Linked DNA regions of Homo sapiens. The protein of the gene in region 1 interacts with the protein of each later gene in a pairwise test. Each region holds a gene or a part of one and is shown in the gene's direction. Other genes may lie near its edges. The genes, in order: PRPF18, CARD9 and KIFC3.

Region 1 (3,820 bases):
TTAGGTGTTGGAGTGCATAGTGGATGTTAGGAAGGGCCAGGGTGTTGAAATCTAAGTGCTTTAAAGGGAAAAGTGAATCACAAAATATTCAGCCCACCCTCAAGGTTCACAACATGAATATTTGCATAATCATGTTCTTCGTCATTGAAATGCACCAATCTACAAAAATGATCATTAAAAAAAAAACTTTAGATTCTTCAGGGTCATTTATAATTTATAATATATAAACTTTTCCTGGGTGTCTTTCATTTTTTAATTTGGTAGTTGATTGAATTATCACATAATTCCAGCCAGAAGATAAGATTGATTTTTTCAATCACAGAGCAGTTCAGACCAACAAAGGGCGTACATGAAATGGGAATTAAAATACTGACATTCGGCCGGGCGCGGTGGCTCACGCCTGTAATCCCAGCACTTTGGGAGCCTGGGGTGGGCAGATCACGAGATTGAGACCATCCTGGCTAACACGGTGAAACCCCATCTCTACTGAAAATACAAAAAAAAAAAATATATATATATATATATATTAGCTGGGCATGGTGGCAGGTGCCTGTAGTCCCAGCTACTCAGGAGGCTGAGGCAGGAGAATGGCGTGAACCCGGGAGGCGGGGCTTGCAGTGAGCTGATATTGTGCCACTGCACTGCAGCCTGGGCGACAGAGCGAGACTCCATCTCAAAAAAAAAAAAAAAAAATACTGACATTCATAGTTTATATTAGCAGTAATGTTAGGCATCATGCAATATGTGTTTTCTAACTTGTACAACAAGTTGCCATTGTTCCCATTTACAGATGAGGAAACTGGAAGCTAAGAGAAGTTACATGACTATAGGATTATGCAGCTAGCAAGAGATAGAGCCTGGATTTGAACCCTGGTCTGTTCCTACTTCAGAGCCTGATCTGTTAACCTGTACAGATAGAATGGATATTTATTCACCTTACAAACATAGAACTAGTTTTGATAGGGCTAATGTAACAAAGCACTGGAAAATTATTAGACTAACATGATTTATATTTTTCAAAGTGCTATATGCTATCTGATTTGAGCTTTACAACGGTTAATTAGTGCACAAGGCAATGCTGTTTTCATGGATGATGAAATTGAGGCTTAGAGGGTTACACGATGTTCTCATATTCCTGTGGCCAGCCGGGATAGATCTCAAGTCTTAGACCAACTTGAGGGTGAGTGCTCTTGCATGATGTAAGGGAACATACACAACTAGGCGTCTTTTCTGTTGTATCCATGGGAAGACAGTCTTTAGATCTGCAGCTCTATCATTTCATGCAGAATAGTTGCTTTATATTTTTCATCTTTCTGCATCACAGTGTCTGTCAGTAACTTACAGACTTTTTCACTGCCCCGTTCATAGCAATACATTTTTATATATTGATCTGATATGTATGTGAAAAAAGTTTTATGAAATAATTCTTACAACCACAAATGATTTTATCATGTTTTATTCAGTCCTCCTTTTTTGTTATCAGTTATTTAATTAGGTTCTTCTTAAGAAATGTAGAACACCAATTTGTGAGGATAAATTCCATGAGTCGGGGCAAACACAGATCGCAGGTAGTCCTGGAGCTTAGGAATAGCTTTGATTTTTGGTAAAATTTGTGACTCCACAGCTTTCTGATCAATCTTGTGCTGCTCTGTAATCTTGTATTTATCTTTTTCTGTGCTGAAGATCTCAGCTTCCTGGTGTCTGGGCTTCTGCAGCTGCTGCTGCTTGAATAAGCATCAGTGGGATGTTTTGGGATTTTTACATCGCTGATAACAATTTTGGTTGAGGTGGCAATGACAGATTTCTGGTGTTTTCTTCATAGAGGAACTCGATTGAGGACCAGAGGTCCAGTCACAAGTAACAAGCCACTAGCCAGGTGCTTCAGGAAGACCGCCCTCTTGCCTCTGTGGAATCCAGTGAGGATGATCAGAACGTTCCCCGGGGTAATGCTGGTTCGCAGTTTTCTCACGTGTCAACTGAGGGTTTTTTTTTTTTTTTGCCATGGCTCAACAGCTTTTGAGGCACATCTTCAGTAGGAAAATATCTAGGCATTTTATGAAGTTTAACCACCTGGGTACTACCATTCTTGTCACCACCAACTGGTTTTGTAACAGTTGCAAGAACCTTCTTTTTCTTTTCAACCTCGTACTTAGCGGCTGAGTACTTCCTCTTATACACAGCTTTTCTGGAATACATAGCACATCGGGAATACCTGCCAATTCCTCTGACAAGGACAGGGTTGTGCTGCAATGGGGCTTCCCCTTCTTGGGCTTCTTAGCCTTGAGGTGACCCTTTTTCACCTTGTCACCAGCCTCAGCCTTCTTGGCTTTGGGTTTCTTCTCTTTAGTATCCGGCTTCTCAACTTTTTCACCCACCATCTTACAAGATGGGGAAGAGCAAGTCCCTTTGTTTTAATTTTTTAGAAAACACGGGTCAGGGATCAGTAGATTGTTGTCATTACCGCATCTGTAGCTGGAAAACAGTTGTCTGTGTGGTGTTGCTCTTGCAGAAAGAAGAGCCACCTCATCTTTGGTCATTTCAAGTGGTGTCCCAGCTTTTTGTGGTTAATCTGTGATAGTTGAAATAATCAGTACTTAGCTTGTGAGTGCCTCTTTCTCAAATTGCAGAGAAGTGACTAAGATATCCTCTTACCACCTGTCCTAAAGTGCCCTGCCTGGTGTAACCACCCTGAGGTAAATGTGTCTGCATTGCTAGAACACCAGTGTTTTGGAGCCTAGAATTGGTGAGTTTTCATTTAATGCAAAACCTCGTGTGGAAAACCAGGCTGCTCTAGAAACTCAATGGGGAGTAATTAGTAGTTTTACTAGTTGTAGTTATGAGGATGAGCTATGTGCAGAATTTTAGCTTTTTTTCCTTCCAGTATTTACTGCATCTTTCCTATATGCAAGATACTATGCTGTGCTGCAGTAACAATGCTACAATAATCAAAACAGCATAGCGCTGGCATAAAGAGCAACAGCTAACACCACTAGAGTATAACAGAGCACCCAGAACGGAGCCACCCTTACACAATTATTGATTTTTGACAAATACACTAAAACCAAATGGAAGGAAAGATATTTTCAGTAAATGATGCTGAACAACTGGATATCCATACGGAAATAATAAGCAACAACCCCTACCCCACATTATACAAAACATTCTGAAATGAAGGACCAATGGAAGGAATGGCAGGAACCAACATGGGAGACATTGGAAAATAAAATTAGTAAGGAAAACTGTATACTAGTTCTAATACATTGGAAAATCTAAGTGAAGTAAATGGCTAAAAAGTACAAAAAAATACAAGAAATAGAAAATCTAAGCAAACCAGTAAGTGAGGAAGACATAAGAAGAATCTGTCAGCTAAGAGGAGAAAGTTACTGAAGGAAGGAAGGAATGAGCAGTTAAATCGAAGACTGGATGAGATCAGTCAGAGAAGTCTCTTTGGATTTGTATCTTAGACATTATTTATGACCCCAAGGAGGTTTTTTCAGTGAAACAGAATGGATGTCCACATGCTGTGGGGCTGCAAAGAGAATTGGGGGTAAGGAAGTGGACACGGATTAGATTAAACAGTTTAATGTGGTTCTGCTGTAAATGATACCCAGGGCAGAGTCTTGAGCATACTTAAATTATAATTGTCAAGAGCCAGTAGAGAGGGGAAGGATGAATATGCGAAGGAGAAAACAGCATTGATGGTGAGAAGTCCCTGAGGAATTGAGGTCTGGAGTAATTGGCAAGGGATTTGCCCTAGACAGACAGAGGAGGGTTCTCTGTTTCACTGTGAAATGAAAGGACCAATGAAGATCCAGCTCAT
Region 2 (3,820 bases), on another chromosome or scaffold:
TGAGGAGAAGGGCGCCGCGCTCATGCGGAACCGTGACCTGCAGCTGGAGGTGCGCCCGCTGCCCCCGGGAAACCAGGCCACCCTCGCCTGGCCTGGCGGGGTCTGCAGGCCGGGGCGGTCGGGGGTGGCCCCACGGGTCTGCGGTCACCGCCTGGAGGGGACAGCCAGGCTCACTGGACCTTCTGCAGATTGACCAGCTCAAGCACAGCCTCATGAAGGCCGAGGACGACTGCAAGGTGGAGCGCAAGCACACGCTGAAGCTCAGGCACGCCATGGAGCAGCGGCCCAGCCAGGAGCTGCTGTGGGAGCTGCAGCAGGAGAAGGCCCTGCTCCAGGCCCGGGTGCAGGAGCTGGAGGCCTCCGTCCAGGTGGGGCCGTAGGCAGGGCAGGTGCAGCCCAGGCAGGGCAGTGGGGGCCTTCCCAGCCAGGCCATTGCCTTTTGCCCCCTTCAGGAGGGGAAGCTGGACAGGAGCAGCCCCTACATCCAGGTACTGGAGGAGGACTGGCGGCAGGCGCTGCGGGACCACCAGGAGCAGGCCAACACCATCTTCTCCCTGCGCAAGGACCTCCGCCAGGGCGAGGCCCGACGCCTCCGGGTAGGAGGGCAGGCGGGGAGACATGGCCCCTGGGGTCCAAGCCAGGCTGGACGGGCTGAGCTCCGCCCACTCCGTGCCTGGAAGGTGGGGTGTGGAGACCCCAGTGCAGCGCCTCCACTCACCCACTCCTGGAGGCACAGTGGACGGTGCCCTCTCCTTGCCCGCCTGCCCCCCATGGCAAAGGCCAACCTCTGGGCTCATGGTGCCTGAGGCACAGCAGTGTCTGAGGCCTGCCGGAGGGCCCTGTCCTGCCGCGGTCTGGAAGTGCAGGGCTGGTAGGGGCCTGGGGACTCCTATGGCCTCCCCCGACATCCCAACTGGCCTGACCACATGCTTCTGAGCCCCTGCCCGGAGTATACCCCAAGGGCCAGAATGGGGGGCCTCAGGCCTGTGGGGGCTGAGCTGCCGCCCCCTGCAGTGCATGGAGGAGAAGGAGATGTTCGAGCTGCAGTGCCTGGCACTACGTAAGGACTCCAAGATGTACAAGGACCGCATCGAGGCCATCCTGCTGCAGATGGAGGAGGTCGCCATTGAGCGGGACCAGGTGGGCACTCGCAGGGGCAGGACAAAGCACCCCACTCGCGGGTGGGTGCACCAGGGCCACGGCCCTTGAGGGCAGTTGTCAGAGGATTTTTAATCTTTGTTATTTGTTTTTGAGATGGGGTCTTGCTATGTCACCCAGGGTGGCCTCAAACTACTGGCCTCAAGCAATCCTCCGGCCTCAGCCTCCCAAAGTGCTGGGATTGCAAGCTGAGCTGCCACACCTGGTCTGTTTTTTAAATGACAGAAGCAATACTTAACACTAAAAAAAAGTAAACGATGATGAAGTCAATACTTCCCCACCCCAGCCTACTGTCAGGGAAAACCGTGTTCAACCTTCCCGCTCCACCTTACAGACTTACCTGTCATCTATCCATGTATCCATCTGTCTATCATCTATCACCTATCTATCTATTTATATATTTGGTTTTGTTTTACAAAAATGGAAACATTCTGTCTTGTTTTACCAGTAGCTTTTTTTAATCTTAAAAAAAGCTTGGCTGGACGTGGTGTCTCTCGCCTGTCATCCCAGCACTTTGGGAGGCTGAGGCGGGCGGATCACTTGAGCCCAGGAGTTCCAGAGCAGCCTGGGCAACACGGTGAGATCCCTGCTCTACAAAAAAATGCAAAAATTGGCCTGGCGCGGTGGCTCACGCCTATAATCCCAGCACTCTAGGAGGGCGAGGCAGGCGGCTCACTTGAGGTCAGGAGTTCGAGACCAGCCTGGCCAGTATGGGGAAACCCCGTCTCTACTAAAAACACAAAAATTAGCCTGGTGTGGTTCCGGGCGCCTGTAATCCCAGCTACTCAGGAGGCTGAGGCAGGAGAATTGCTTGAACCCAGGAGGCAGAGGTTGCAGTGAGCTGAGATCACGCTACTGTACTCCAGCCTGGGTGACAGAGCGAGACTCCGTCTCAAAAAAAAAAAAAATTAACTGGTCGTGGTGGCGCATGCCTGTGGTCCCAGCTATTTAGGAGGCTGAGGCTGCAGCAAGTCACCATTGCGCTATTGCACTCCAGCCTGGGCCACGGGAGTGAGGCCTGCAAGGCCTCCAGTGCTACGTGCTGTGAGCCGGATGGAGCGTCGCGGGGCAGGGCTGTGTCTGCTTCCCATGCCCCGTCCCAAGTCCCATCCTGGAGGTTGTTTCCAATGGACACCATTGCTGCTTCGGCTAAATGCTGGATGGCACTTTGTCCACATCAGGAGCCTTAAAACGAGACCCCTGGGGCTACAAAGGAAGCCCCGGCCCCCATGAGAGCAGCCCAGGCTCAGAGCTCCTGTCTCAGCCCCACCTCAGCCTCACTCGCGCCTGGCCCACGCCAAGGCAGGGGAAAAGGGCAGATCCAGCTGTGCCCCCATGGGGGTTGGTGTGGCTCCCAGGGCGGGGGCTCCCACGGGACTTCCCGGGAGCGCGTTGGCCAGGGATTAGGGAAGCTGCCAGCCGTTGCTCCAGTCTGGGCAGAAGGGGTTAGGTGAGGGCCTCCCAGCCTCGGCTGCAGGGGTGGTCAAGCCGTCGTGTTTGCACATTCGCTCCTGCGTCTCAGTGTCCGCAGTGAGGACAGGGGTGGTAAAGAGTGCTGCGGTCACGAAGGACGCTTAGCTATGGACAGTCAGGGTCTCCATATCAAGCCGCGTCCAAAATTTATCAAATGTGCACGTGTGGGGGTACATAGCACACGCTGTGTCCACCGGGGGTGCAGGCTTGGGAGGAGACAGAAGGGCAGCAGGGACAACTGTCACATTTACAATCCCCCACGTGCTGACTTCGTGTCCGCAGAGCACACAAATGGAGGGGCTGTGACCAGCCTCCGCGCCCAGCGGCTTGACGTCCTCCGGAGCCTCTGCTTGGAGTTGGGCGGCCGGGCCGAGGGCCCAGGGCAAGCTTGGGGCCCTCACTGAGGGTCGGCCTTGTGCTGTCCCGTCAGGCCATAGCCACGCGGGAGGAGCTGCACGCACAGCACGCCCGGGGCCTGCAGGAGAAGGACGCGCTGCGCAAGCAGGTGCGGGAGCTGGGCGAGAAGGCGGATGAGCTGCAGCTGCAGGTGTTCCAGTGTGAGGCGCAGCTACTGGCCGTGGAGGGCAGGCTCAGGCGGCAGCAGCTGGAGACGCTCGTCCTGGTGGGCCTGGGGCCTGCGGCAGGGAGGGGAGCCGGCGCGTGGGATGCAGGGCCAGGGGAGCACGGAGCCTCAGCCCCGGCCTTCCCGACCCAACCCTTCTCTGTGACGGGCCCCAACCTAACCAAACCCCTCCTGGCAGTGGGGTGAGGGCACACGAGCAGTTCAGGGTCCCAGCAGGAAGTGGGGCTGCAGGGCCGGGGTGGGTCCTGGGCCTGGCCATCAGGCAGCCTAGCAGGTTGTTCTGGGCATGGAGGGGGCCTGGTGTGGCTGAGGGCATGCCCAGGGCTCCCTGGAGGATCCCGCTCTGTGCCCTGCCCACCCTGTGCCTGGGGAGCCCTCTGCCCTCACAGCCCACCCACCCCATTTTCTATGACCACAGAGCTCCGACCTGGAAGATGGCTCACCCAGGAGGTCCCAGGAGGTGAGTGAGACCCCAGCCAGCACGAGGCTGGCCTTCCTTCACCTGGGGTCCTGGCTGAGCTGCCACCAGGCATAGCCCCACACTGCCCGTCACATGGCCCTGCTCGGTGGGCTGGGCTGGGTGGAGGAAGAGCAGGTGGCCAAATG
Region 3 (3,600 bases), on another chromosome or scaffold:
CATCCCCCGCCCCATCAACTCATAGGGACTATAATCAAGGGAGATAGATACTAAATCAGAATTCTAGAGACATTTTGCCTTCATCCACCCTTGCGGTCCCCTGGATCACTGCTGTTTGGAGGGCAGGCAGAGGAATTCAGAGATCATAACTCCCCAAATAAGGCTTTCTCTCCCATTGGAAGGGTTCTCCAGTGTGGTGTTCAGCTGGAAATCTAACTCTCTAGGGAATGATTCCAGGAGCGTTACATTCACCCTCTATCAGGCCTTCACTGAGGAATCTCAGTTGTCAAATAAAGCATGCACTAGGCTGCTTCCAGCTGGGGGACTGTGACTGTCCTGCTCTGGCGTCCAGAACAATCTGAGGCCCAGGCCCTTGGCTCCGTCGCTGGTCGAGATTCTTGACTGGCAGCCCAGCGCCTGGGCGGCAGCAGGAGATAGAACCCACCTGGAGTTGCCCGACCCCCTCCAGTCCTCTCCTTGATCTTCTTGGGCCATCCCCTGACAAGCAGGAAGGGACAGAGTACCCGCCCTCCTGGGATTATCTGCAGAACCGTCAGCCTGCATGGGCTGGCTTCAGAGTGACTTGCTTTCTCCTCTTCCGCACCCGGGGGTGTGGAGAGTGAGGGAGAATATTGCTGCTGGCTCTGGAATAAAATGCTGCCTCTGTTTGGGAGACAAAGAACAGAGTGGCTCCTCCAGGTCAGCTGTCTCTCCCGGCTGGCAGGCCCCTGGCCTCCCCCAGGCCTCTTCTGAGGCTCTAGGTGCCCCAGTAGCAGGGCCTTCTGCAGCAAGGCCGGGAACTGCTGCACCATTGGTGTGTTTTACCTTAAGGGACTCCAGGCAGCTTCCTTGCTGGGAAGATATTCATTTGCTGGGGTGGGGCTGGGGGTGCAGAGGTAGGAAGTGCTGTGGCTAGAAGGCGGCCTGGCCAGCGAGTAGGTGGTGGAGCGAGTGAGAGCGTGTGCGCTGTAAACAGTGTGAGTGCATGTGCGCCAGCGCGTGCAAGGACACGGTAAGGGATGTACATGTATTGTCTCGTGAGTAAGAGCTTGTGTGTGTGTTGGGATGGGAAGACACGTACTGGTATGAGAGCCCGCGTGAGAAGTGTATGTGTGAGTACTCGCGTGGAAGTTTTGCACTCGGGTTTGAGGCTGTGCAAAAGTACGCATGGCTCACCAGGTGTGGGGCTGTGTGGGCTGCCTCGTGTGTGCCAGCCCGTGTGCAGGCCTGTTTTGTGAGAGCCTTCAGGGAACGCATGAGCACGTGTGCCAGTGCGAGTGCGGGACGCGGGGAGGCGGGAGAGACCGAGTGGGAGGCCCCGCGAAGGAGTGGGAGTGGGAGTGGGAGTGCCGGCGGGAGACCTGCGGGGGCGCGCCCGGGCTGACGCGTGCGCGCCAGTGCGCGTGAGTGCGGGCGCGCGCCGCCGCCCCCCGCCGGGGTCGGAGCCGGTTGCCATGGGAACGCGCCGCGGCCCGAGTTAATCATTTCCTGTGGAAAGTGTGCGGGAGGGGCGCGAGCGGGCTGGCCGAGGAGGAGGCGGCGGCGTGGAGCTGCCTCCTGCCGGCGGGCCGGGCCGGGCCGAGCCCCGGGCGCTGCGGCGACGCCTGGATCCTGCCTCCGCCAGGCCGGTGAGTGGGGGGCCCGGGCGGGCTGGGTGCGAGCGGGGCGCTGGGCTCTGCCCGGCCCGCCGTTTGGGGCGCCGCGTCCGGGCCGGCCCTGCCCTCGGGACCCCTCTGCCCGGACCCGCTATGGGCGCGGGGAGGGAAAGGCCCGGGAGACCCAGCCCTGCGAGGTCCCCTCCAGCGCCGTTCAGCCCGAGTCGAGGACCTTGCTGGGAGCTGGGCACAGGGGCGGCGTGTCCCACGGGATCCGAGCAGCCTCGGGACCCCGTTTGGATTTTATTGAACGAGAAGAGCGCAGACCCTACCCGGGATGGGCTTGTCAATCGGCGCCGCCCTCTCCCCTTCCTGGCGTCTTCCCCACCCCCAGGGCTCCCTGGAAGGCTGCCTTTGGGTCCCTCCCACCACGTCCCTTGGGGAGTTCGCTTTTTCCCTGGCAGGGCCTGGGGCGGGGTGCGCCCGCCCAGAGGTTAGGAAGAAGGGCCTTGGCCGGTGCCCTCCGGGCAGTGAGGAATCGGGCCATTGACAGCCGCAGCAGTTGTGAGGGTCTCAGCAGGGAGGGCGATCCCAGGACCACCCCTTTAAGCCCAGCATTGCTAGTTAGAGCAGAACTCTGGCTGGTGCAGTGAAGGGCCTGGTCCTGGGAGATATTAAAGAGGAAGCTGTGTTTAATTAAATTCTGGAGTACCATTTACTGCCACCCAGCCCCCACCTCCATACCCCAACACTGTCTCAAGATTGCGGGTTGTGGCCACCCCTGGTCTTTCACCTTCCCCGGCTTTTCCTCTGCCTGAACAGGGTGAGCACCCATTCTTTCCCAGACGTGTATTCCCCATGCCCTTGTTAGAGTAGCCGTCTCCTTGACCAGGGAGAGTCATTTGCTAGGAATGCAGTCTCAGAATGGGGCCCTGCATTTGCAGTGAGTGGACTTTAGGGGCACAGGGTGGTGAGTTCTGCTGTTCACAGGGGCACCAGGGAGCAGAGGGTTTGAAATCTAGGTTGCCCTGGAAAGCCCAGGATAGATGATGGTGTGCAGGGAGGTGGCATTCCCTGTACAACTTCCTTGACCTTCTGCCTGCTCTCCCAGGGCGACCAAGCCCTGCTTGCTGCAGTCTCTGAGCAGCTGTCCAGCCTGTCCCCCCAGTCTTTGCAATGTCCCTGATCTAGGGCAGGGGGAGTATTGCAGCTCTGCTGTCCTGGTCTAAACCCAGAGAGGCAGAGACCCTCTTCCCCAGCCAGGCCCTCTGCATTCACCCACCACTGGAGCAAAGTAACTGAAAAATAAAATTTTGGAGCTCTTTGTATATGCCAGTATTGTTCTGAACACTTGGCCTTGTCTAATCTTTAGAGCAACCCTATAAGGTGGTGTTCTCCCCATTTTATAGATGGAGATAATGAAGTACGGAGAGGCAAAGTAATTCTCCCAAGGTCAGACATCTAGTAAACAGGGGAGCCAGGTTCTGAACCAGTCCCACTGCCCTCCCCCACGAATCCTAGGTTGGTAGAAGTCCCCGGACACCAGGTTTCATCTCAGATGCCCATGTAAATGAGAGAGAGTCCTGCTTTCTTGGCCCAGAACCCTGGGCTTAAGATTCCTTGATACTTTTGACCTTCACACCCCTGAGGCTGCTAAATTCAGCTGCTTTTTCCTCTTCGGGATCTAGCACACGCCCTTCCTCTTTCTTCCCGATATCTTCCTGGCTGCCTCCTCCACTTCCCTTCCTGATAACCGCAGAAACGCTATCTCCTCCTGTCCCTGCCCCTCAGACTGAGCTGAGCTGATCTCCCTGAAAGTCTTCTCTGTCCACTGTGGAGTCAGCCTCCAATGCCCTGCACTGTCTCACCTTCCCAGCAGCCGAGACTGCAGATGGACCTGCCTTGCTCCTTCCCTTGCCCATTGGACAGCTGGTCTGCAGGGTTGGTTGTGTGCCCAGCTCTGTGCCAGGCAGCCTGGAGAAGAGGACATTTGGCTGCTCCCCTT

Evidence for each region.
Region 2: the proteins of PRPF18 (region 1) and CARD9 interact in binary tests that used the Homo sapiens proteins (3 or more experiments, as listed by UniProt).
Region 3: the proteins of PRPF18 (region 1) and KIFC3 interact in binary tests that used the Homo sapiens proteins (3 or more experiments, as listed by UniProt).

The regions. Positions count from the first base shown.
Region 1 is NC_000010.11:13,589,946-13,593,765, forward strand, and holds part of PRPF18 (pre-mRNA-splicing factor 18), read left to right. Parts: intron 1-1,822; exon of another isoform or gene 1,823-1,922; coding exon of another isoform or gene 1,923-1,943; intron 1,944-3,820.
Region 2 is NC_000009.12:136,367,070-136,370,889, reverse strand, and holds part of CARD9 (caspase recruitment domain-containing protein 9), read left to right. Parts: coding exon 1-49; intron 50-188; coding exon 189-368; intron 369-452; coding exon 453-596; intron 597-1,014; coding exon 1,015-1,140; intron 1,141-1,592; exon of another isoform or gene 1,593-3,061; coding exon 3,062-3,253; exon of another isoform or gene 3,254-3,266; intron 3,267-3,632; coding exon 3,633-3,674; intron 3,675-3,820. UniProt on the Homo sapiens protein: Adapter protein that plays a key role in innate immune response against fungi by forming signaling complexes downstream of C-type lectin receptors.
Region 3 is NC_000016.10:57,800,398-57,803,997, reverse strand, and holds the start of KIFC3 (kinesin-like protein KIFC3), read left to right. Parts: upstream 1-1,506; 5' UTR 1,507-1,628; intron 1,629-3,600. UniProt on the Homo sapiens protein: Minus-end microtubule-dependent motor protein. Involved in apically targeted transport. Required for zonula adherens maintenance.